Linked DNA regions of Homo sapiens. The protein of the gene in region 1 interacts with the protein of each later gene in a pairwise test. Each region holds a gene or a part of one and is shown in the gene's direction. Other genes may lie near its edges.

Region 1 (4,924 bases):
GATGACACAGAGGCCCCTCAAGCCTCTCATTGTCCCAAACTGAATCCATCTTTTCCCTCAAACCCATTCTTCTTGCATTCCCTTTCTATGTAAAGGCTCCACAATCACCTAGTTCAGTAGAAATGTAGGCTTTTGTCTTCCTAACTACTTCCCGTCTTTCTCCCTCTTGTCCAGTCTGTTATTAAACTCTATCCATTGGCGTTTAATAATCCACTAACTATCCATTGAATCTGTCGGCTTCTCTCTTCTGGCCATTGCTACTGCCTAGGCCACCATCATCTCTCACTTGGATTGTAGCTGCAGTCTTGTAGCTACACGTTTACCTTCTAGTCTTGTGATGTCCTTTTGTCACATTACAACCAGTGTTCATTCTTTTTTTTTTGAGACAGGGTCTCACTCTGTCACCCAGGCTAGAGTGCAGTGGCATGATCTTGGCTCACTGCAACCTCCGCTACAGCCTGCACTTAGGCTTGTTGTAACATATCCCATTCCATACTTCAGGTGCCTATTAACAGACAAAAATCCCACACTACTCTGTTGGCTCTTGAGGGCAGGGACCCTGTATGCTATATCCCTAATACCTGTGTTAGCAGATAAATATATGGTTTCTGTGTCTTCTTACACTTGAGGGCCACACTTGAAGGCCACACTTGAAACTTATTCCATGAGGGTATGGGAGTTTGAACTTAAAAGGAAAAAGATGGAATTTATCATTTGCCATTGTGATTGCTTACTGAAATTAGACATCAGTCTTATCCCCAGTCCCAACTTAGCTACCCATGCAGAAGATACAGACCGTCCAGAAGATACATAACAAGCTGTCACCTTATTCCATAAAACTCTTTCCTGTTGTACCCAACACATAATCATGACTGCTCAGCCTAGCAAAGCAGTTTGATACGTTATAGGACAGGCTGTCAGAATAAAATTATGCACATTTTGCTATCAAACAATTCTGCTGTAAATGGTTCCTTTAAAAGAAACTTCTTGCTGCAGAAGAATTTCCCCTCCAGGAATAAAGGAAGAGTAAAATACTAATCTGCATTTCTTCAGAGGTGTGACACGGTCTACTTTATTACCATGTTATATAATAAACATATATAATGTAGAAATAAGGATTTTTATGCAGGTATGCATAGAATTATATAGAACTTTAAAAAGTTATTTTTTAAAATTTTTTCACATGGTGAATATTTTATTACAGTATATAACCATGTAGTATATAACATGTACATATTTTTATGTACAGTATATAACGTACATATTTTTATTACCTAGTATGTGTATGTAAAATCTATAGTGACTTTGTTTTGTGTATTGAAAACATCTTTGTAAGCTGCACATTTTTGTGGGAGATAAAGACTTCTTTTTTTAAATCTTAATTCAGGTGAAGGTACAAGTAAGAAGCTGGCGAAACATAGAGCTGCAGAGGCTGCCATAAACATTTTGAAAGCCAATGCAAGTATTTGGTGAGCTAAATTTCTTTGTATTCAGCAGCTCAAAAATATCATGGCTGAGGTAAGATTAAAAATTTGAACATGCTTACAAAAGCAACAAAGTGAACAGTTGTTAGCATCCTACCTCTCAAATTCTATTTCCTTATGAAAACTTATCATCCATTAAAGAAAACTTTATCCAATCAAATCCAGCAATTAGCTATTAAATGAAGGTGCTCATGAACTAGGCTTTACTGTTTTTTTTTTTTTAATGGGATACAACAGTAGAAAATCAGTGCTTCTTGCAAATATTAATATTAACATTTTGTATTTAGACTTTGATTATTTCTACATTGAAGAAAACAAAGTGTGAGATGGAGAAAGATCCACTAAAAGTACTCTTTTGGGAATTCTAATTTTGAAGAAGCAGGCAGAGGTTTTCTTTTATTATATAATGTATACCAAAAGAAGAGAATGTTAAGTGGGATATTAATTCTTGACATATCTTTCTAAAGTAAGATTTTTTTTTTTTTTTTTTTTTTTTTGAGACGGAGTCTCGCTCTGTCGCCCAGTCTGGAGTGCAGTGGCGGGATCTCGGCTCACTGCAAGCTCCGCCTCCCGGGTTCACGCCATTCTCCTGCCTCAGCCTCCCAAGTAGCTGGGACTACAGGCGCCCGCCACTACGCCCAGCTAATTTTTTGTATTTTTAGTAGAGACGGGGTTTCACCGTTTTAGCCGGGATGGTCTCGATCTCCTGACCTCGTGATCCGCCAGCCTCGGCCTCCCAAAGTGCTGGGATAGATTTTTTACTACTTTAGGTGTTTCTAGATAGAATATTGGTCCTGGAGCATCTCACATATTAAAGTAGTGTCCACTGGGTGCACTCTGGAGCTTGGCATGCTTTCAAGTTCTTCTTGTGCATACACTTACATATGCCTGAAGTACGATCTGTGTAATCAGCTTATAGTTGACAGTAGAGACCCAGGGAATTTGGGATGGGTTTTTTGTTCCCTAGTCATAGAAAGGCTTTTGGATTAGGGGTGTAGTTAGGTTCTCATGTAGTATTCCTCTCTTTTTGTAAATCATTCTAAACCGTTTGGGTAGTTTAGAACTAACCAGTGACATGGCAACCCTCTAGATAAGCAGCTGCCCAAGACAAGCCTTGCATTTCACAAGATGATGCTTGATTCTCTAGGGTCATGCATTATAATTGATCTATGCCAGGCTGGGCGGGGTGGCTCACGCCTGTAATCCCAGCACTTTGGGAGGCTGAGGTGGGTGGATCACTTGAGGCCAGGAGTTCAAGACCAGCCTGGCCAACATGGCAAAACCCTGTCTCTACTAAAAATACAAAAATTAGCCAGGCATGGTGGCAGGCGCCTGTAATCCCAGCTACTTGGGTGGCTGAGGCACAAAAATCGCTTGAACCCGGGAGGCGGAGATTGCAGTAAGCTAAGATTGTGCCCCTGCACTCCAGCCTGTGAAACCCTGCCTCAAAGAAAAACAAGGCCAGGCATGGTGGCTCACACCTGTAATCCCAGCACTTTGGGAGGCCAAGGTGGGCAGATCACTTGAGTCAGGAGTTCGAGACCAGCCTGGCCAACATGGTGAAACCTCGTCTCTACTAAAAATACAAAAAATTAGCCGAGTGTGGTGGCACGCTCCTGTAATCCCAGCTGCTTGGGAGGCTGAGACACGAGAATTCCTTGGACCCAGTAGGCAGTGGTTGCAGTGAGCTGGGATCGCGCCATTGCACTCCAGCCTGGGCGACAGAGCAAGACTCTGTCTCCAAACAAACAAAAAAAAGACATGCCAAATGACATGGCAGGTATTGGGTTCTCCCCCACTGGTGATGGCCATGCTGTTTCTGTATAGCCTGAAGGTGAACCCAACCATTAAGTACATTTGTAGAAATGAGGGGTATGGAGTGTCCTTTCTGCATCTTGGCACTTTGTCAGCAAAAAAAGCTAACAAACTTTACTATATTTGTGCTTCTTGACAGATAAAATGGGAATTACTAAGCTGTAATCAGGCCTAAAGTGGCCTGACTTAATACAGAGACTTTCTCACTTCTCCATCACAATTATTTGGGTAGCTTCGGCATGCAGCATTGTAAGTGAATACTCATATCTCATCAGCCTATGTAAAGCTTGAAATTCTCACAGTTGGAAAAAAAAAACCTTGAGGAAGTGGCAATAACTAAACCTCATTTGTCATGGAAAAATGACTCCAGTTGCCTAGGTGGTACTAACCTTGAAATGCCGCTTATTCAGTTTTAAGTACTGACCTGCTAAGTAACTAGTAATTCCAGACTCCCTAGAAGAGGTTGTTCTCTTTTTCCCTAATCATAATCCCCACTTGCTAAAACCAAATTCATCTAAGCCATCTATTTTCTGCAGGATACATGTAAATCTTAGAGGATTATCCCAGCACTGAGCAGATGATAGATCAAACAGATCTCTCTTCATAGTTCTGTGGATGAAAAAACAGTATTTACACATAATCTGTATTATTCACATTGCCAGGCTAAATTTTCTGGATCATTGTTACTCTTCTGTTTTTTGTATAGTTGTAACAGAGTATTCTTTAAATACATTTTTATGGCATGCCTATTATGTACAAAACACCACAAAGCTTATGTAGGTAAGTGATACATAGGCCCTACCTCAAGGAGCTTACTGTCTGAACAGGGGAGAGGTGTGGTGAAGGATGGACAAATTATATGTATTTGTAAGAGTATATAATTTATGGTAAAACAATTTCAAGAAAGGATTAAACCATGTGTTATAATGTTTCAAAGAAGGGAGAGATTATAAACCACTGGGGTAAAAGGATAGGCTTCTTGGAGGAAGTGACATTTGAGATATATCTTGGATGACCGATCAGATTCCCATAGAAGAGGTCTGAGAAAAGGGCATTCCATGTAGAAGGAATGACAAGAGCAAAGACATAGAGAGTTAATTAGAAAATGCTTGTCATTTATTTCATAATTCGGGGGAAATTATTTTGTTTTATAACACTTTTAAAAAATATTTAGCTTTGCAGTTCCTGACCCCTTAATGCCTGACCCTTCCAAGCAACCAAAGAACCAGCTTAATCCTATTGGTTCATTACAGGTAAGTTGTACAGTTCTTTGCCTACTGATGAAATATATAATAAGTTTGTAATGTCAGAGGGGCTAACACAAGGAATTAATATTTTAAAGACAAGATAGTGATATATTTTGTTTTCCAACTTACGATCATTAGATTAACAGAGCTAACTTGAAATTATTTTCCTATTTATGTTCTGGGTTTTCTTTCATATACAGTATTTGCCTTTGGCTTATAGAATTCTCATTTAAGATCAACAGGCCCTCAGTGCACATGGGTAAAGTGTTTTATACTTTAAGAATAGTTCTTGCTACTCTTGTGACAAATCTCTTTCTACTTCTGTTGAGACAGAAGACTTTATAGAGAGCCTAAATCAAATCAGTGAACCTAACTGAA
Region 2 (4,299 bases), on another chromosome or scaffold:
AAAGCCCGTCTCTACTAAAAATACAAAAGAAAAAATTAGCTGGGCTTGGTGGCAGGTGCCTGTGGTCCCAGCTACTTGGGAGGCTGAGGCAGGAGAATCGCTTGAACCTGGGAGGTGGAGGTTGCAGTGAGCCGAGATCGCGCCACTGCACTCCAGCCTGGGTGACAGAGTGAGACACCGTCTCAAAAAAAAAAAAAAAAGAAGAAAGTGATAGAGTAGACACTTGGCAGACCATTTGGCTAATTGTGAAGCCAATTTGCTTGGAGGACTAGCAGTATAATATGGTGCTTAAGGGCACAGATGAGGGTCTCTGTTTTGCTATGCACTAACTATGACCTTGGACTAGTGATTTAACCTCTCTCTGCCTCTGTTTTCTGTCACATTGGATAGTAATAGTTTCTACCTTGTTAATTTGTCAAGGATTTAAATAAACTCAGTATCTGGCACATAATTAATGCTCAGTAATTGTTGTGGTAGTTGATGTAGTTAAGGTTTGGCAAAGGGAAATCAGTTCTGGAACCCTGGCCTTTTGATTTTCAACAATGGTATCCATTGAAATAAAATAAAGTGAGAATTTGGAAAGCTGTCAAAGAGGGTGATTTTATTTTATTTATTTATTTATTTATTTTTATTTTTGAGACAGTGTCTCACTGTGTTGCCAAGGCTGGAGTGCAGTGGCGCAATCTCAGCTCACTGCATCCTCCACCTCTTGGGTTCAAATGATTCTCCAGCCTCAGCCTCTCGAGTAGCTGGGATTACAGGCACATGCCACCATGCCCAGCTAATTTTTATATTAAAGAGGGTGATTTTCTATCATATCCCTTTTCTCTCCTAGAAAATATAATTTGACATCATGCCCAAGAAATATGAAATATGTACTTAGTTGCATTTGTTACCAAGGCAAGTCCCTCAAATGCTCAGGACTCCTTTGTGATTCTTTGTGCTGGTGTTTGAGTTGGCAGGAATACAGCCCTAGGGTCTTCTGGGCCTGGAGGTGACATGTATACCTTTCTAGCTCCCTCTAAGATCCAAAAGCTCTCCAACATCTGTAACTATAGAGACAGCTACATTTTGCTTTGGATATAGGCTGAGACTTTTTCAGTCTCCAGGTCCCCATTTGAGTCCCACACATATTACAGATGTTTCCTGTAGCATTTTATATATTGGATGTAGACCTTTTACAAAAGACAGAATTTCTTGGTGTGTTATGGTAGAGCAAGTGTGGGACTCTGATAGAACTGAGTTCAGGCCCGGCGCGGTAGCTCACGCCTGTAATCTCAGCACTTTGGGAGGCCGAGGCGGGCAGATCAGGAGGTCAGGAGCTCGAGACCATCCTGGCTAACACGGTGAAACTCCGTCTCTACTAAAAAAAAAAAAAATACAAAAAATTAGCCGGGCATGGTGGCGGATGCCTGTAGTCCCAGCTGCTCGGGAGGCTGAAGCAGGAGAATGGCGTGAACCCGGGAGGCGGAGCTTGCAAAGTGAGCCGAGATCGCGCCACTGCACTCTGGGCTGGGAGCCACAGCGAGACTCCGTCTCAAAAAAAAAAAAAAAAAAAAAAAAAAAGAACTGAGTTCAAACTCCTGCTCTGCTACGCACATATGCTATAACCTGCAGGAAAGGATTTAAATGTGCAGAGCTTCAGTTTCCTCATCTAAAAGTAGAGATACTTCCGCTCACTTCCCAAGCTTGAGTGAAGACACCAGGGATGGCAGTGCCCAGGGCAATGATGCTGCCCATTGAGGGTGCTCAATTAATGCATCTGCTTCTATAAAACCCAGGTTCATCCTTAAAAGAAATAAGCTTCTATACATCTATCTAGGTGGTGAAATTTTATTCTCCAGTCAGAGGAGTGGGAATTAGAAAGATCTTGGTGTTACTGAAAGAGTTTAAATTCCAACTCAGCCATTTCTTAGGCATGTCACTTTATCTGTCTCTCTCTCTCTCTCTTTCTCTCTCTCTTTCTTTGCCTTATTCTGTAACCCAGGCTGGAGTTGCAGTGGTGTGATCTTGACTCACTGCAACCTCAACCGCTGCAGGCTCAGTATATCCTCCCACCTAAGCTTCTCAGGTAGCTGGGACTATAGGCATACGCCACCACACCCGACTAATTTTTTTTTGTATTTTTTTGTAGAGACAGGGTTTTGCCATGTTGCCCAGGCTGGTCTCAAACTCCTGGGCTCAAGCAATCCACCTGCCCCAGCCTGCTAAAGTGTTGGGATTACAGGCATGAGCCACCGAGCCTGGCTAGCCATGTCTCTTTTAAAAAGTTACTTAATCCATCCCTACTTCAATTCTCTTACCTGTAAAATGCGGAAATTAATATTTGTTTAGCATTTACTGTTTAGTAGGGACTGTTATTACTGCTACTGAAATGTAATAGTATTGTCTTTTTTTTTTTTTCATTTCTTTCTTTCTTTTTTTTTTTTTTCAAGATATGGTCTTACTCTTTTACCCAGGCTAGAGTGCAATGGCACGATCATAGTTCATTGCAGCCTCAAACTCCTGGGCTCAAGCAATCCTCCTGCCTTGGCTTCCCAAAGTGCTAGGGTTACAGGCCTTACAGCCACTGTGCTCAGCCTAATTTTTTTTAATTTTTAATTTATTTTATTTTATTATTATTATTTTTTAAGATGAAGTCTCGCTTTGTCAACCAGGCTGGAGTGCAGTGGCATGATCTCAGCTCACTGCATCCTCCGCCTCCTGGTTCAAGTGATTCTCCTGTCTCAGCCTCCTGAGTAGCTGGGATTATAGGTCCCCACCACGACACCTGGCTTTATTTATTTATTTATTTATTTTTAGTAGAGATGGGATTTCACCATGTTGGCCAGGCTGGTCTAGAACTCCTACCCTCAAGTGATCCACCCACCTTGGTCTCCCAAAGTGCTGGGATTACAAGCGTGAGCCACTGCACCCCTGGCTGATTTTTTGTAGAGACAGGATATTGCTTTGTTTCCCAGTCTGGTCACAAACTCCTGGGCTCAAGCAATCCTCCTACCTCGATTTCCCAAACTGCTGAGGTTACAGGTGTTAGCTGCTGCACATGGCCTGCCTACTTTCTTTTATTGGCCACATTTTCTGGGAAATCTGGCACACCTGGACTCTGGCATCTAGTGGGAATGAATGTTAGCAGATGTTAGGGGGAGCGATAGTGAGCAAAGTAGAAGAGGGTTCAGAGAGGATATTTGAAGGCCTCCAAAACAAATTGACCTCTTTTTTTTCTTCTTTTTTTTTAATATGGAGCCTTGCTCTGTCACCCAGGCTGGAGTGCAGTGGTGCAATCTCAGCTCACTGCAACCTTCACCTCCTGGGTTCAAGCGATTCTCCTGCCTCAACCTCCTGAGGAGCTGGGATTACAGGTCCCCACCACCATACCCGGCTAATTTTTCAGATTTTTAGTAGAGATGGGGTTTTACCCCATGTTGGCCAGGCTGGTTTCGAACTCCTGACCTCAAGTGATCCGCCCGCCTTGGCCTCCCAAAGTGCTGGGATTACAGGCATGAGCCACACTGCACCCAGCCTGACTCCATTCTTGTGCTTACAGCTTTTAAATCTTGGGGATTTTGGACTGTCTTGGCAAATCCTAAGTATCATCTTCATTCTTCCTTGATGTTTGTGAGTATGAGATCCCTGCCCAAAACTATGCTGGCCCCCCTGGGGATTGGAGTTTGGAAACTGACTTCACTCAGCCCCAGAGTCAAGGTCAGAAGCCCCTCTACCTGGATATTTTAAGTGCCTGCATTCTCTCTGGCCCAGAAACCAGGACGTGGACCACGCCAGAAGTGACCAGCCCCCCACCATCCCCAAGAACATTCCACACATCATCGGCAGCCATTGGAAACCAGCTATATGTCTTTGGGGGCGGAGAGAGAGGTGCCCAGCCCGTGCAGGACACGAAGCTGCATGTGTTTGACGCAAGTATGGACTGGTGGGCACCTTGGGGCTGGTCAGGGCCATCCCAGTTTACACATTACCTAATATAGGAAGCAGAAGTTAGAAAAGGAAAGCCTGACTAAGTGTCTCACTTCTAGACTTCTTTGTTATATCTCTTAGCTGATATCTTTTTCCCACAGCAAAATTGGCATTTAAAAAGGGATAGTGAGGCCTGGCATGGTGGCTCACACCTGTAATCCCAGAGCTTTGGAAGGCTGAGGCAGGTGGACCGCTTAAGGTCAGGAGTTCGAGAACAGCCTGGCCAACATACCTTTTCTCTACTAAAAACACAAAAATTATCCGGGCATGATGGTATGCACCTGTAATCCCAGTTACTCAGGAGGCTGAGGCAGGAGAATCGCTTAA
Region 3 (4,299 bases), on another chromosome or scaffold:
CCAGGAGCTCCTCTGTGCCCTGTAGGTCCCACATTCAGATGTGGGTGGCTCAAACAGTCCAGCTCCCTACCCACCGCAAAATGTGCCCATTCTTCCTTGTCCCAGCTGCCGGTCACTGATACGCCATGTGAACATTTCCAATGACAGGGAAGGCCCCCGTCTCTAATTAAGATGGTTGCTGTCCATATACAAGTCTAACTGTGGCATATATGTACTTTCCTCACCAGACTGCAGGGTATGTCACTGCTCCTGGTACAGCTACAAAAATGTCGGAGGCCGTCATTTTTACCTTGAGGGGGTGGGAATTGGGAAAGAGAAAGAATCTTGTAGGGCTCAGGCAGTGTCAAAAAGCCTAACTCTGGACTGATGGAGATTTGCAGTCATGGGGATTTTAGCTTGTGGGGGAGGGGCAGATGGGAAGGTGACAAAATGAGACTGTCCTGGGGGAAGAGGAACTGGCCATTAGATTTTTATGTTTGTTAAAAGGGGACATGAGATGCTTTAAAAAACAAAAAAAGAAAAAAGAAATTGAGCAATACTCTTGTTTGTGCCGTTTCAGTGAACCAGCTGTTTTTTTTGCTGGGTCATCATCAGTAGACAGTTCCTGTGTAATCATGAGGGGAGGTGCAGGCTGCGCTCTAGTAAATCTGCAGTTTACCATTTCTCCACTAAAATGCCCAGCAATGCTAAGTCACTGTTTACGTAACAAAATTGCACTGGGTACCTGCCATGTGTCAAGGACAGTGGTATGAAAAGATGCAATACCATGTTCAGGGAGCCCACAGTGTAGGTGTGGGTAGGAAATTATTGTGTAGGGTGATAAGCACCGTGATAAGGGTCTGCATTGTGCTGCAGAGGCCTGGAGTAAAGGCACCCACCCAGACATAGACCTAACATACCCAAGCAGGTGATGGCCAACCTGAGATCTGGCATGTGGTATAGGATAGCCCCACTTGTCCACACATATGGACTCCCAGCCCAACTCCCCCGTGCCTAGGGAGAGAGGGGCTCAATGAAGACAGTGGATGGAATGAGTGATGCCAGTTTCTCTTTTGTTTCTGAAAGATTTCTCCGTGGACGATGGCAGCCACGATTCAGGCCATGGAGAGGAAGATTGAATCGCAGGCTGCTCGCCTGCTTTCCCTAGAAGGTCGAACCGGGATGGCCGAGAAGAAGCTGGCTGATTGCGAGAAGACAGCCGTGGAGTTCGGGAACCAGCTGGAGGGCAAGTGGGCCGTGCTGGGGACCCTGCTGCAGGAGTACGGGCTGCTGCAGAGGCGGCTGGAGAACGTGGAGAACCTGCTGCGCAACAGGAACTTCTGGATCCTGCGGCTGCCCCCGGGCAGCAAGGGGGAGTCCCCTAAGGTAGCCCTGGGACGCCTTGGGGTGTGGGAGCCCAAGCGGCCAAACCCGTGAGCGTGTGGGTGAGCGAGTGTGACACTTGTGGTTCCAGGTGCCCGTGACCTTTGATGATGTGGCCGTGTATTTCTCCGAGCAGGAGTGGGGCAAGCTGGAGGACTGGCAGAAGGAGCTCTACAAGCACGTGATGAGGGGCAACTACGAGACGCTGGTCTCCCTGGGTAAGGCCTGACACTCATTTCTCTGTTAAATGGGATTTTGCAAGTCCTCAGAATTCTCCCTCCACATAGTTGTTTTCATGTCAGTGTTATATAAATCACCAGAAACATTGTTGACCTTGCAAGTTGTTACCTTTTGTGAAGGATGAGCCCTGGGTGATGGAGTTAAAAGCTCCCTTCTCCCTGTGTTGAGTTTCCCAGAATGCCAGTCTGGGAACGGCGGTGGCTTCTCTCCTACGCAGGCCCGGGATGTGGACCTTTCTGTTCTTGCTGACTTGGAGCGGGGAAGGCCCCATCTGCTCTCAGATCCAGTATGTAATTGACTCACATTTGAGAAAGACTCTTTCCTTCAGCCTTCTCCTACAAACATGCGTGGCCCTTACGGCAACATGCCTCGAGGTCAGTGGAGAACATGGGCAGACGGTGCTGCTTGCAGCAGACATTTTCTTCATGCCTCAAAACTTTGCTTCCCTCAGCCCCTGGGGCTACTGCTCTTCTCCTTGTTTAATCCTGCCCAGGAAGGGCCTGGACTCTGTTTCTTCCTGGGCTGGTTTTCTCTTCCTAATGGTTTCTGTGTGACCCCGGAGCCGAGGGCAGTGAGACCTGTTAGAGAGGGCAGGAGCAGGTGCAGACGTGAGGTTGTTTCGTCAGCACAAGTGCACTGCTGTTTAACGTGCACGCTCTGTGGCAGTTTCTTCACCCCGGCACTGTGGACATTTGGGACCAGGTGATTCTGTGTGTCGGCGGCATCCTCTGCATTGTAGGATGTTGAGCAGCAGCCCTGGCCTCTCAGGGCATCTCCAGATGCCAGTCACCTCTCCCCCAGCCCTGGGCATGACAACCAGAATTGTCTCCAGACTTTGCCAGATGCCCCCAGGGAGCAAAATTGCCTGTGGTTGAGAGCTACTGCTTTGTGACAATCAAGAGATTTCATTTCTAGACCATTGTTGGTTTTCCGGGATGACTGTCCCCAGCTTTGACTGGAACGTGGCAAAAACTAACCTTCTGTCTTTCCTCAGACTACGCCATCTCCAAGCCCGAGGTCCTCTCCCAGATTGAACAAGGGAAGGAGCCCTGCAACTGGCGCCGCCCTGGCCCCAAGATTCCAGATGTTCCTGTGGACCCCAGTCCAGGTAAGGGCTGGGAGAAGGCCAGGGAGGCATCAGGTATTGTGCAGGAAACAGAGACGGAAAGGCCAGAAAGGGTGTGATCTTTCCAGAGAGAGTCGAGGAGAAACATGAAACTTACAGGTTTTATGTCTTGAGTTTTTTATAGTTGAGTTTTAATCTCTAACTTAGTCAGCTAATGCTCCAGAAATGAACACTTTCTGTCAGGGAAACAGGTGGCAAACCTAATCTTTTAGGAAGAGACAAAGGCAGGGCACAGGTTGAGGGGAGGGAGAGGAGAACGCTGAGAGGGAAGGCAGGAGCATAGTTGACCCTTAACGCAGGGGCCAGGGGCACCAGCCCCCAGTCCCACGCAGCCAAAAATCTATGTATAACTTTTGACTCTCTAAAAAGTTAACTGCTAGTAGTCTCCTATTAACCAGAAGCCTTATTGATACTATGAACAGTCAATAACACATATTTTGTATGTTCTGTGTGTTACATAGTGATACTTACAATAAGCTAGGGAAAAGAAAATGTTACTAGGAAAATCATAAGGAAGAGAAAATATATTTATTACTCATTAAGTGGAAGTGGAGCATCATAAAGGTCATCCTCCTCATTGTCTTCTTCAGATTGAGTAGGCTGAGGAGAAAGAGGAGTGGTTGGTCTAGCTGTCTCAGGGGTGACAGAAGCAGAAGAAAATCCATTTATAAGTGGGCCTGCATAGTTCAAACCCATGTTGTTCAAGGTCAGCTGTATATTGACAACAAAATTAATCCAAAGCTTTGCAAAGAGTCAGCCTTGCCTCCAAGAACCAACCTTAATTTAAACCAGTAGCAGTTGTAGAGCTACTTTGGTCTACATTGGTCAGCCTTATGGTTTGGTATTATTAGAAGCACACATTTATTTAAGGTGAATCTTGTTACCAGATATCAGCGTCTCAGATTTCCCTGGAGCCAGTCAGCACCTTTGAAAGTTAAGGGAAGGACAGGTGGACACAGGAGAAAAACCAAATTCCTAAAGTGAAGACCTGCTGGGTCATTTGACTAGGGAGACCACATCTCTGCAAGGCTCGACCCCTGATTCCTCCAGAAGACCCGCCCTTGACCGTCCCACCTGCCTTGGTTTTCCCTTTCGTCTGACACTGAGAAAGGTGGTGGTCCGCAGAGGCCCTCCTGTGCGCCACTTGTGTGAAATTAAATGCATCCCCCATGTTCGTCATCTCATCTCAGTCAGATTTGCACTTTCCTAAGGGCAGAAGCATGTTCCGGGCTGGCCGCTTTGCCAGTCGTCATCGGGACATTGACAGTTTAGCTCTACAGATGCATTTTTAAGAATCTTCTAGGCGTCAAGGACAGTGCTGAACACTAGAGGACAGAAAGATGGCTGAGAACAGATACTATTGGGCTGGAAAAGAGGGTTACAACCCGTGCGCGTCCCCAGCTTCCTAGCCTGGGTGGGAGGTTCTGGGTGGGTGGGTTTCGTTGTATTTACACCATGTGTGGAGGCTTCCCTCACTTCCACAGCATCATTCAATGAGAGTAAAGAGGGGCTGGAAATACGCTGGTTGCTGGTAAGACCCTGTAACACTCTCTAGCTGCACCGTATGATGT

What was found. Proteins that work in one complex are often made in the same cells at the same time.
Region 2: the proteins of PRKRA (region 1) and RABEPK interact in a two-hybrid assay, tested with the Homo sapiens proteins (one large-scale study listed by BioGRID and IntAct).
Region 3: the proteins of PRKRA (region 1) and ZNF746 interact in a two-hybrid assay, tested with the Homo sapiens proteins (one large-scale study listed by BioGRID and IntAct).

The regions. Positions count from the first base shown.
Region 1 is NC_000002.12:178,444,050-178,448,973, reverse strand, and holds part of PRKRA (interferon-inducible double-stranded RNA-dependent protein kinase activator A), read left to right. Parts: intron 1-1,387; coding exon 1,388-1,469; coding exon of another isoform or gene 1,470-1,518; intron 1,519-3,438; exon of another isoform or gene 3,439-3,548; intron 3,549-4,473; coding exon 4,474-4,552; intron 4,553-4,924. UniProt on the Homo sapiens protein: Activates EIF2AK2/PKR in the absence of double-stranded RNA (dsRNA), leading to phosphorylation of EIF2S1/EFI2-alpha and inhibition of translation and induction of apoptosis.
Region 2 is NC_000009.12:125,216,783-125,221,081, forward strand, and holds part of RABEPK (rab9 effector protein with kelch motifs), read left to right. Parts: intron 1-3,756; coding exon 3,757-3,918; intron 3,919-4,299. UniProt on the Homo sapiens protein: Rab9 effector required for endosome to trans-Golgi network (TGN) transport.
Region 3 is NC_000007.14:149,491,270-149,495,568, reverse strand, and holds part of ZNF746 (zinc finger protein 746), read left to right. Parts: intron 1-1,065; coding exon 1,066-1,365; intron 1,366-1,453; coding exon 1,454-1,580; intron 1,581-2,596; coding exon 2,597-2,710; intron 2,711-4,299.